Linked DNA regions of Homo sapiens: region 1 is linked to region 2. The links come from fine-mapping of genetic effects on gene expression. A gene starts in region 2. The other region holds a variant in brackets. All regions are shown on one strand. Distances are from middle to middle. Region 1 overlaps RABEP2 (rabaptin, RAB GTPase binding effector protein 2). Region 2 holds the start of ATXN2L (ataxin 2 like).

Evidence for each region. PIP is the estimated chance that this variant, and not a neighbour inherited with it, causes the effect.
Region 1: its variant is fine-mapped to the expression of ATXN2L in whole blood (INTERVAL, PIP above 0.99).

Annotation. Positions count from the first base shown.
Region 1 is chr16:28,907,656-28,912,655 of GRCh38, forward strand. It overlaps RABEP2 (rabaptin, RAB GTPase binding effector protein 2), which reads right to left. Exons shown (of 13, transcript NM_024816.3): 6 at 3,429-3,524; 7 at 3,233-3,331; 8 at 954-1,109. Among named protein-coding and RNA genes, the nearest start is that of RABEP2, 15 kb to the right of the region's middle. The variant G/A (reference allele first, on the strand shown) is at 2,890.
Region 2 is chr16:28,819,725-28,825,236 of GRCh38, forward strand. ATXN2L (ataxin 2 like) reads left to right here and starts at 3,275. Exons shown (of 22, transcript NM_007245.4): 1 at 3,275-3,834. The coding sequence starts at 3,536. It overlaps LOC124903672 (a long non-coding RNA gene), which reads right to left and starts at 4,318. Exons shown (of 2, transcript XR_007065042.1): 1 at 4,170-4,318; 2 at 1-297. RefSeq lists enhancers at 2,554-3,290, 2,802-3,011 and a silencer at 3,332-4,481.

The DNA.
Region 1 (5,000 bases), 88 kb after region 2:
GAGATGGAGCCTTGCTCTCTCGCCAAGGCTAGAGTGCAGTGGCGCGATCTTGGCTCACTGCAACTTCTGGCTCCCAGGCCAAGTGATTCTTCTGCCTTAGCCTCCCAAGTAGCTGGGATTACAGGCACGAGCCACCACACCCAACTAATGTTCTTTTTCTTTTGAGACAGAGTTTCACTCGTTACCCAGGCTGGAGTGCAATGGCGCGATTTCGGCTCACTGCAACCTCCGCCTCCTGGGTTCAATCGATTCTCCAGCCTCAGCCTACCGAGTAGCTGGGATTACAGGTGCCCGCCACCACACCAGGCTAATTTTTGTATTTTTAGTAGAGATGGGGTTTTGCCATGTTGGGCAGGCTGGTCTCAAACTCCTGACCTCAGGTGATCCACCCACCTTGGCCTCCCAAAGTGCTGGGATTACAGGCGTGAGCCACCGCGCCTAGCCCTGACTAATTTTTTTGTATTTTTAGTAGAGACAGGGTTTTACCGTTGGCCAGGCTGGTCTCAAATTCCTGACCTCAAGTGATCCGCCCGCCTCAGCTTCTCAAAGTGCTAGGATTACAGGTGTGAGCCATCGCGCCTGGCTAATAAGCCATATTATTAAGAAAAAGTTGACAAAGGCTAGGCATAGATCCATGATGGCAGCTTGCTATAAACCAAAGATTATGATAAATTCAATCTTGTGGCTCGCGTGTCACTTAAAAATAGCAAACCAACCAAATGACTGCTTCCTTCCTGCCAAGCATTCTGTTAATTCATTTTCTTTTGATGCCAATGCTGGAAAGCATGTATGGTTCCATTTCTCAGATGAGGAAACTGAGCCTTAGAGAAGGCAAATGAGTTAGCCAAGCAAATACACAGCACCCTGGCTGGTCGTGACCAACGCTCTGCCCTGCCTGGGAAGAAGGGGCCCTCACGGTGGCTCCAGGCTCTCAGTGCCCACACTCAGCTTACTGGCACAGAGCTGGGCAGTGATTCCTCCTCGCCCTGCTCCTGCTGCGAGCCCTGGGGGGCTGAGGATGGCAGCTGCTCGGCCCGGAGCCCTTGGTTTTCCTCATTCAACCGCTTTACCTCATGGTGCAGGCACTTGTGGGTGGTGACCAGCTCCGCCTATGGACAGACAGTTAGTATAAGGCAATGAAGAGGACAGGGCGTCTCCAGTCCCTAGGAGGCCAAACCTCCTTGAACCCTCCTCCCAGACTGACAGCAAGAGAGCCCATACCCTCTCTGTTCCTAAGCAAGGAAGGAGCACTTTTTGCTACCAAGCTCTTCAGACACCTCTGTCCCTGCTAACACGCAGATTACAGGCTGCTGCCAGGGCCCAAGCCAGATATTTTACTTGGTCTATATATATATATATATATATATACACATACACACACACACACACAAATATTTAAATATATATAAATTTAAATTTTAAAAAATATATATTTTTTTGAGACAGAGTCTCCCTCTGTCACTCAGGCTGGAGTGCAATAGAGTGATCTCGGCTCACTGCAACCTCCGCCTCCCGGGTTCAAGCGATTCTCCTGCCTCAGCCTCCCAAGTAGCTGGAATTACAGGCGCCCACCATCACGCCTGGCTAATATTTGTACTTTTAGTAGAGACGGGGTTTCACCATGTTGGTCAGGTTGGTCTCAAACTCTTGACCTCAGATGATCCACCTGTCTTGGCCTCCCAAAGTGCTGGGATTACAGGTGTGAGCCACCGTGCCCGGCCCATATATATTTTTAAAACCTTAAAGTAGTTGCCAATTCTAAAAATTAAGAGACAAGCCAGGCGTGGTGCCACACACCTATAACCCTGGCTATGGGGGAGGCCAAGGTGGGAGGGTCACTTGAGGCCAGGAGTTTGAGACCAGCCTGGGCAACATAGTGAGACCCCGACTCTACAAAAAAATTTACAAATTAGCTGGGCATGGTGGTGTGAGCCTGTAGTCCCAGCTACTCAGGAGGGTGAGGCTGCAGGATTGCTTGAGCCCAGAAAGTTGAGGCTTCAGTGAGCTCTGATTGCACCACTGCACTCCAGCCTGGCCAGCCTGAGCGACAGAGCAACACACCATTTCTTAAAAAAAAAAAAACAGGAGGCCGGGCTCAGTGGCTTACGCCTGTAATCCCAGCACTTTGGGAGGCCGAGACGGGTGGATCACGAGGTCAGGAGATCGAGACCATCCTGGCTAACACGGTGAAACCCCGTCTCTACTAAAAATACAAAAAAAAATATTAACCGGGCGTGGTGGCAGGCACCTGTAGTCTCAGCTACTCGGGAGGCTGAGGCAGGAGAATGGCGTGAATCTGGGAGGCAGAGCTTGCAGTGAGCCGAGATCGTGCCACTGCACTCCAGCCTGGGTGAAAGAGCGAGACTCCGTCTCAAAAAAAAAAAAAAAAAAAAAAATAGGAGACAATACACAAATATTCATATTTTTGGTTTCTCTTGAAAAATCAGAAAATCTGGCAGCAGGGAACCTGTGTTCCTAGGTGGCCACAGTCAGCAAAGCCCAGAGGCAGGAGCCCCTTGCAGGGGCCTCTGGTTCCAGGCCGCCTACTGCCCTCCTACCCTCCTGCCCTACACCTGGCCCTGTTCAATCACGTATGTCTCCTCCCCAGTCTTTGTCAGTATCTGATTTGCTTTTTTTTTTTTTTTTTCTTTGAGACAGTTTTGCTTTCACCCAGGCTGAAGTGCAATGGCGTGATCTCGGCTCACTACAACCTCTGTCCCCTGGGTTCAAGCGATTATCCTGCCCAGCCAAGTAGCTGGGATTATAGGCGCCCACCACCATGCCCGGCTAATTTTTGTATTCTTAGTAGAGATGGGGTTTCCCTGTGTTGGCTAGGCTCGAACTCCTGACCTCAGGTGATCCAACCGCCTAGGCCTCCCAAAGTGCTAG[G/A]ATTACAGGTATGAGTCACCTCGCCCAGTCAGATTTGATTTTAATCCTCATGACTCTGCAAACTAGGGCCCATTATGTCAGTTTTATAGATGGTGAGGCAGAGGCTGGGAGTCTGGGATTAGCTCAAGATCAAACAGCTCTGTGTGGCTGCAGGGGCCCTGTTCTGGCCACGGCACCAGCTGCCCCAAAACCCTCTTACCTACCTGGCACCGGTTCCAGGGTGTGGCCTGAGCAGCTGGGGACAGGACAGGTTCCTTGACTTCCCACGTGCCCCCTTCCACCACGTGCAACTGATTCCTGCTGGACTCCTCGCCCTCCTGCCCTAGGGCCCCCAGGTACTCACCATCTGCAGCTGCACCCGCTCCTGGGCCTGGCTCACGGTCCCTTGCAGGGTCCGCAGCAGCTGCTCTGAGTTCTGGACCTGGGCCAGGAGCACCTGCATCTGGGTTGGAGGGAGGGCGAAAGTGAGGGCAAGGGCATGTCAGGGGGCGGCAGGTAGCCAGAGGCCGGCTGGGGCTGCAGCAGCGGCAGGGACCCACCTGCTTGGCACAGTCCTCATTGCTCCGTCTCAGGCCCTCTTGGAGCTCGTCCCGCTCGCGACTGACGCTCTCCAGGTCCTTCTGCAGCTGTCGGCCCTGCCACAGACCCTGCCTTCAGCCTGCATCTCCCAGGAACTTGGCCCCCCTCACCACACTTCTCGTGGCCCACCTCTGCAGGGAGGTGCCCTCATCCACACAGTCCGTCAAATTACAGGCCCAGCCATCCATTCTCTTCCCTTCACTCCCCACCCATCAGCAGGCCCTGCCAGGTCCACCTCCAAAGTGGATTCCACAGGACTGGGTGGAGTGGGGTCACGCCTGTAATCCCAGCACTTTGGAAGGCCGAGGCGGGTGGATCATTTGAGGTCAGGAGTTCAAAACCAGCCTGGCCAACATGGTAAAACCCTGTCTCTACTAAAAATACAAAAAATTAGCCGGGCGTGGTGGCGGGACACCTGTAATCTCAGCTACTCGGGAAACTGAGGCAGGAGATTCACTTAAACCCAGGAAGCAGAGGTTGCAGTGAGCAGTGAGCAGAGGTTGCCGTGAGTGAGATTCCGTCTCAAAAAAGAGAAAAAAAAAAAAAAAACAGGGCCAGGCATGGTGGCTCATGCCTATAATCCCACCACTTTGGGAGGCTGAGGTGGGTGGTCAGGAGTTCAAGACCAGCCTGACCAATATGGTGAAACCTTGTCTCTACTAAAAATACAAAAAAAGTAGTTGGACGTGGTGGCGGGCCCCTGTAATCCCAGCTACTGGGGAGGCTGAGGCAGGAGAATCGCTTGAACCTGAAAGACAGAGGTTGCAGTGAGCCAAGATCAGGCCACTGCACTCCAGCCTGGGTGACAGGACAGGACTCCATCTTAAAAAAAGTGGATTCCAGCCGGGCATGGTGGCTCGCACCTGTAATCCCAGCACTTTGGGAGGCCGAGGTGGGCGGATCACGAGGTCAGGAGATCGAGACCATCCTGGCTAACATGGTGAAACCCCGTCTCTACTATAAACACAAAAAATTAGCCAGGTGTGGTGGCAGGCGCCTGTAGTCCCAGCTACTCGGAAGGCTGAGGCAGGAGTATGGCATGAACCCGGTAGGTGGAGCTAGCAGTGAGCCGAGAACCACACCACTGCACTCCAGCCTGGGTGACACAGCGAGACTCCATCTCAAAAAAAAAAAAAGTGGATTCCACATCCACCCATTTCTTCCTGTCTCTGCGGCCATCCCCTGGTCCAAGGTACCACCTTCCTGTACACCACAGTCCCAGCCTCTCAGCTTCTCCTGTGTCCCCTACCCCAACACAGCCCCAAGTAAGCTTTCTTTCTTTCTTTTTTTTTTTTTTTTTTTTGAGATGGGGTCTCACTCTGTGACCCAGGCTGGAGTGCAGTGGCGCACGATCTCAGCTCACTGCAGCATCGACCTCCTGGGCTCAAGCAATCCTCTCATCTCAACCTCTCGAAGTAGCCTGGATCATAGGCATGTGCCACTGTGCCCAGCTACTTTTTTGTGTTTTTTTGTAGGACAGGGTTTCATCATGTTGCCCAGGCTGGTCTCAAACTCCTGGGCTCCAGCATTCT
Region 2 (5,512 bases):
GATAAGACAACATTCCCATTGTTGGGGCAGGAGTGCTGCCCCAACCCCACCACCAGGAATGTTAGGCAACCATCAGGTGATGGTCAGGTGGTTGTTAAACTTGTCTCTAAAATAGTAATTGGTTGCAGCCAGCACCAGGGAAAGGCAGTCTCCAAATAGATGGAAAACACTTGAAACTGATGATCAGCAGCTTCTCGATAAGATCTCAGAAGTTGGGTAAATGGGCTCAAGCTTATGCACCAAGAGGCAAAATGGCGGAGTTTAATGGTACATGCCCTTCCTCCAGGAATGCTAGATCTGTAAGGGAAGAACGTCTTAAGTGAGCATGTGCACTTCAGTATACTGAACACACTGTGCTTGTGGCCCCTCCAAGTGCTGGCAGGCCACCGTGCATGTGGACAGCCCATGCCAAGGTAGGAATCAGGGGAGAAGAGATGCAAACCGTAAATCCCTGGAAGCATGCCAGCATATGAAACCCCAAGTCAAAGGTCAAACCAGGGACTTGAATCTGTCAAGTCATTCACGCCTGGCCCTCTTCCAAGTGTACTTTACTTCCTTTCATTCCTGCTCTAAAACTTTTTAATAAACGTTCACTCCTGCTCTAAAACTTGCCTCTGTCTCTCCCTCTGCCTTATGCCCCTTGGTGGAATTCTTTCTTCTGAGGAGGCAAGAATTGAGGTTGCTGTAGACCCCATGCAAATTAGCTGCCACTAGCAAGGGCAAGGCAAGCTATGGAGAAAGAAGTTTCATGGGGCTAAAACTCAGAATTTGAGTGTGGAGCAGGATGGGGTAGATGGAAGGGGGTTAGAGTGCTCAGTGCTCACAATCTGTCAATGAGGGTAGAGAGGTGGCATGGCATCAGGTGGTCCAGGTAATGCCAGGAAAAAGCTGGACTGTGTTTGTTAGGGAACCCAGGAGACATGATGACCTTTAAAACACCATTTGGGCTGGGCGTGGTGGCTCATGCCTGTAATCCCAGCACTTTCGGAGGTCGAGGCGGGTGGATCACCTGAGGTCGGGAGTTCAAGATCAGCCTGACCAACATGGAGAAACCCCGTCTCCACTAAAAATACAAAATTAGCCGGGTGTGGTGGTGCATGACTGTAATCCCAGGTACTCAAGAGGCTGAGGCAGGAGAAACGCTTGAACCCGGGAGGCGGAGGTTGTGGTGAGCCGAGATCGCGCCATTGCACTCCAGCCTGGGCAATAAGAACAAAACTCCATCTCAAAAACAAACAAAAAAACATCATTTGGATCCACTCACCTTACAGATATTTCATTGAGTGCCTGCAGTGTGCTAGAGTACTGCAGAGCAAGAAATAAGTCAAGATCCTAACCCTTAGGGAGCTGACATTAGCAGGAAGACAGAATTAAAGGAGCTGTTAGAATACAGTGGGATAAATTGCTCGGCGAGCACACAGGAGGGGAAACTAGCACATCTGAAGGCAGGAGCGAGGCAGGGCGAAGGACTATTACCCAAAAAGTAAGGCAGTGTTGTAGCTAGGTGTGCATGTGTTTGGTGCAGGGGCTGGGAAGAGTTCCAATGCTAACATTTAGAGCGAAGAGATTGAGACATTGAGAGTTTCGCTGGGATTAAGACCACATGGACTTAACAGCTCCACTCCATTCTCCACGTTGCAAAGAGTAAACCTTTAAAAATGCAAATCTGACCTCTTTTCACTTGTTTTTTTGTTTGTTTTGGGGGGAAGGAGTCTTGCTCTGTCACCCAGGCTGGAGTGCAGTGGTGCGATCTGGGCTCACGGCAACCTCCGCCTCCTTGGTTCAAGTGATTCTCCTGCCTCAGCCTCCTGAGTAGCTGGGATTACAGGCATGCACCACCACGCCTAGCTAATTTTTGCATTTTTAGTAGAGACAGGGTTTCACCATGTTGGCCAGGCTGATCTCAAACTCCTGACCTCAAACCTCCCAAAGTACTGGGATTACAGACCATGCCCAGCCTCTTTTCACTTTCTTAAATAAGCTCCCCACTGCTTTGAGGATAATGTCCGTGTCTCTTACAAGACTTGGGAGCCTTTAAAACCTGATCCCAGATTAGCTACCTCTTCCCCCCTTTAATTTTATGCTTAGGACAAGCTGAGTTTTTCTTAGTTTGTCATATCCTATTTCCCTGCCTAGAAACCCATCTCCCCCTGCCCTCTTATCAGTTTTTTTTTATAATTTAAATTTTTTTTTTTTTGTAGAGACAAAGTCTCACTTTGTTGCCTAGGCTGGTCTCAAACTCCTGGCCTTAAACGATCCTTCTGCCTCGGACTCCCAAAATGTTAGGATTACAGGTATGAGCCACTGCGCCCGGCCCTCCTGTCCCTTATCTGGGTCTCCCAAAACTGGATTAAGATTAGGTGTCACTCCCATTTGCTCTTGTAGTCCTCTGTGCTTCACCTACTAGATCTCGTCAAATTCTCTGAATTCACCACTAGCATGAACTCCTCCAGAGCAGGAAGCAGTTTAATTATCCTTGTGTCCAAAACAACTAACTGAATACTCCAATGCCCAACTCATTTTGAATGAATGAAGCTGCCTTCATTGCAGGGTCGGGTGGAGGATTTTGAACTCGGAACTTTGGCCTTCAGTCTTTGTTATTACAGTTTAAAGATTCATTCTCGGGCATGGAGGAACAATTTAGGTCAAAATCACAAAAATCTGAAATAATTTAGGACGAGGCGTAAATTTATCTGCAAAGATCAACACGCTCAAACGAATCACTAATGCTCATCAGTCTTTTACTTAAAGCAAACAAGGTGGAGGGTAGCTCCTTGCGAAACCTACCACCTGCCTAAAAGCGCAGTGGCTCGGGTGGTCCAGTCCCGGAGACTTTCTTGGCACTTAAGGCTCTGCCCACGGGCCGCCAAGTGGCGGAAGAGCCTCACGCACGACGTGCCGCCTCACACTCCCGCGGAGGCATCGCGACGCAGCGACGGCGTGGGCGGAGAGGCCGGCCCTTCCTCTGGCGCCTTCGGCTCCTCCCCCTGCGCCTCACACGCTCATTGTGAAGCGACAGCGGCCGCCGGCTTCTAAGGCGGTTTGAGACCTTAAGACCCTAAATCCTTGGCGCGCGTGAGCGCCCGCGCCGCTCCTTACCCACTCCCAGGGCTAGGGGTGCGAGGTTCACCGACTTGATTCTCTCCCACTTTCCCGCCGGGAGCTAACCGCGCCGGTGTGCGCGGCACCTCGCGCCACTGCTCGCTCCTGGCCCCCCCCCCCCCCCCCCCCCCCCGGGAGCTCCCACCCGCGCGCTCCTCCCTCTCCGCTCCCCGGCGACGCGCACGCGCGCCAGCCCGGCTCGCGCCCTCTCGCTTTCCTCCAGCCGCGAGACCCCCTCCCCTTCCGCCTCGCGGCGCTTCCTCGCGCCGCGGTCTTCTCTCTCCACCCCCGACACCGCGGGGCTCCCCCCGCCCGCCCACGGCGGGCCCCGGCTGCCCGATCCCCCTCGCTTCCCGCGCTCTCCAGCGGGGCCCCAGCCCCGGCCCCCTCTCTCCCTCCCTTCTCTCTAATTCCCCTTCCGGACGCTGCCATCATGTTGAAGCCTCAGCCGCTACAACAGCCCTCCCAGCCCCAGCAGCCGCCCCCCACGCAACAGGCCGTGGCCCGTCGGCCCCCCGGGGGCACCAGCCCTCCCAACGGCGGCCTCCCGGGGCCGCTGGCCACCTCTGCGGCTCCTCCCGGGCCTCCAGCGGCCGCCTCCCCCTGCCTGGGGCCTGTGGCCGCTGCCGGGAGCGGGCTCCGCCGGGGAGCCGAAGGCATCTTGGCGCCGCAGCCGCCGCCGCCGCAGCAACACCAGGAGAGGCCGGGGGCAGCCGCCATCGGCAGCGCCAGGTGAGAAGGGTGGGCTCCGGGCGAGGGAGCCGCGGCCACCCAGAGGCTGTGGCTCGGTTCCGGTGGGGCGGACCCCGACCCGGCACCGTCAGGGGCACCGGCTGGGTGGGGAGTCCCCGTGAAGCTGGGGGAGGGCCCCCTCAGGTCCGAACAGGTCGGACGGAAAGGGTCCCCGGGCGGCCACCGGAGCACTGAGGGGCCGCGCTCGGCTCTCGGGGCCTAGTCAGGGCTCGCAGCCCCGGCCTTCAGGGGAGGCGGGGCGCATCCCGCCGGCGCCGTCGGAACGGGGAGTTGGGGGGGGGCAAGGAGCTGATCGGGGTCCCCGGTTCCATTACCACGAAGGGTCTCGCGGTCCCCGGCTTCAGCCAATGGGGAGTCTGCTGCGGGAAGGGGTCCCCGGCCGTAGCCAATGGAGGGGGGCGCGCGGCCCACAGTTTGGCCAATGGGGAGGGAGGGACTTGGGAGCGGGTTGCTGCCTCCCCCTTCCCGGTCTGGCCAGTAGGAGGGGAGCGAGGTGGGCGGGGGGACGGAAGGAGGGATGACTGGGAGGACTGCGGGCCGGGAGCCTCTGGCGCGCGCGCCCCCTTCCCGTACGTGCGCGTGGATGCTCGGTCTCATGACCCGGGCATTCGCGCGCCCCGGGAACACCTAGGGCAGGGACTAGTTCGTGGAGGGGCTCGTCTGGTGGCAGTGCATGAGTAGTGGAGGCCCTGCTCAGTTTTTCCTGTGCGAGTGTGTGTGTGTTAATGGAATTAAGAGTGGCAGCACACGCAGGCGCAGTGGGCTCTGATCGCTGGAGGTGGGGGTTCGGAAAGTCCCGTGGGTTTTAGTGCGCAGGCGCAGACCGGGCGAGGCCTCCCGGTGGATGGCTTTTGCGGCTGCGCTGTCCCCCAGCCCCGCCAGCGGCCCCCTCTTCGCCCTCAACCGCCGGTTACATCAGCCAGCGACGAGCAGGGTTACCTGGCGATTGGTGATCCCCGCAGAGTGGGTAACGGGCTGAATGAGTCATGAGGTCGAGGGGATGGGGTGTGGAGGGGATACCCCTCCTCCCACAGTTTTGAGGCGTCAGGCTGCTGAAAATGATTGTCTTTTCTGTTTGGGAGGTAATGTACCTGAGCTAGGTAGTTCCAAAGCTGCACTCCTGGAGCTTTTGCCCTCACAGCTGGCGTGGCTTTTTGGTTAATACTGTAGCATTGATCTGTTGGTAGCCTGCAGCCCTAGCCCCTTTCTCGTTGGTTCTTAGAGCAATTGACAACCATTGTTGATTGAGATCTTTTTGCTGGCATTTGGAGGAAATGTGTTTGCTGGCTTATTAATGTCTATTTTTTTCTTCCTCTACAAGGTGACAGTTTGAAAATCTTATTTATTGGCCGGGCGCAGTGGCTCACGCCTGTAATGCCAGCACTTTAGGAGGCAAAGGTGGGAGGATCCCTTGAGCCCAAGGAGATCGATACCAGCCTGGGCAACACAGATGGGAAATCCCATCTCTACTAAAAATTAAAAAAAAAAAAAGCCAGGAGTGGTGGTTCGTACCTATAGTCTCAGCCACTCGGGAGGCTGAGGCAGGAAGATCACTTGAGCCTTGGAGGTTGAGGCTACAGTGAACTGAGATCACGCCACTGCACCCCAGCCTGGGCAACAGAGGGAGACCCTGTCTCAAAAAAAATAGAAAAATCTT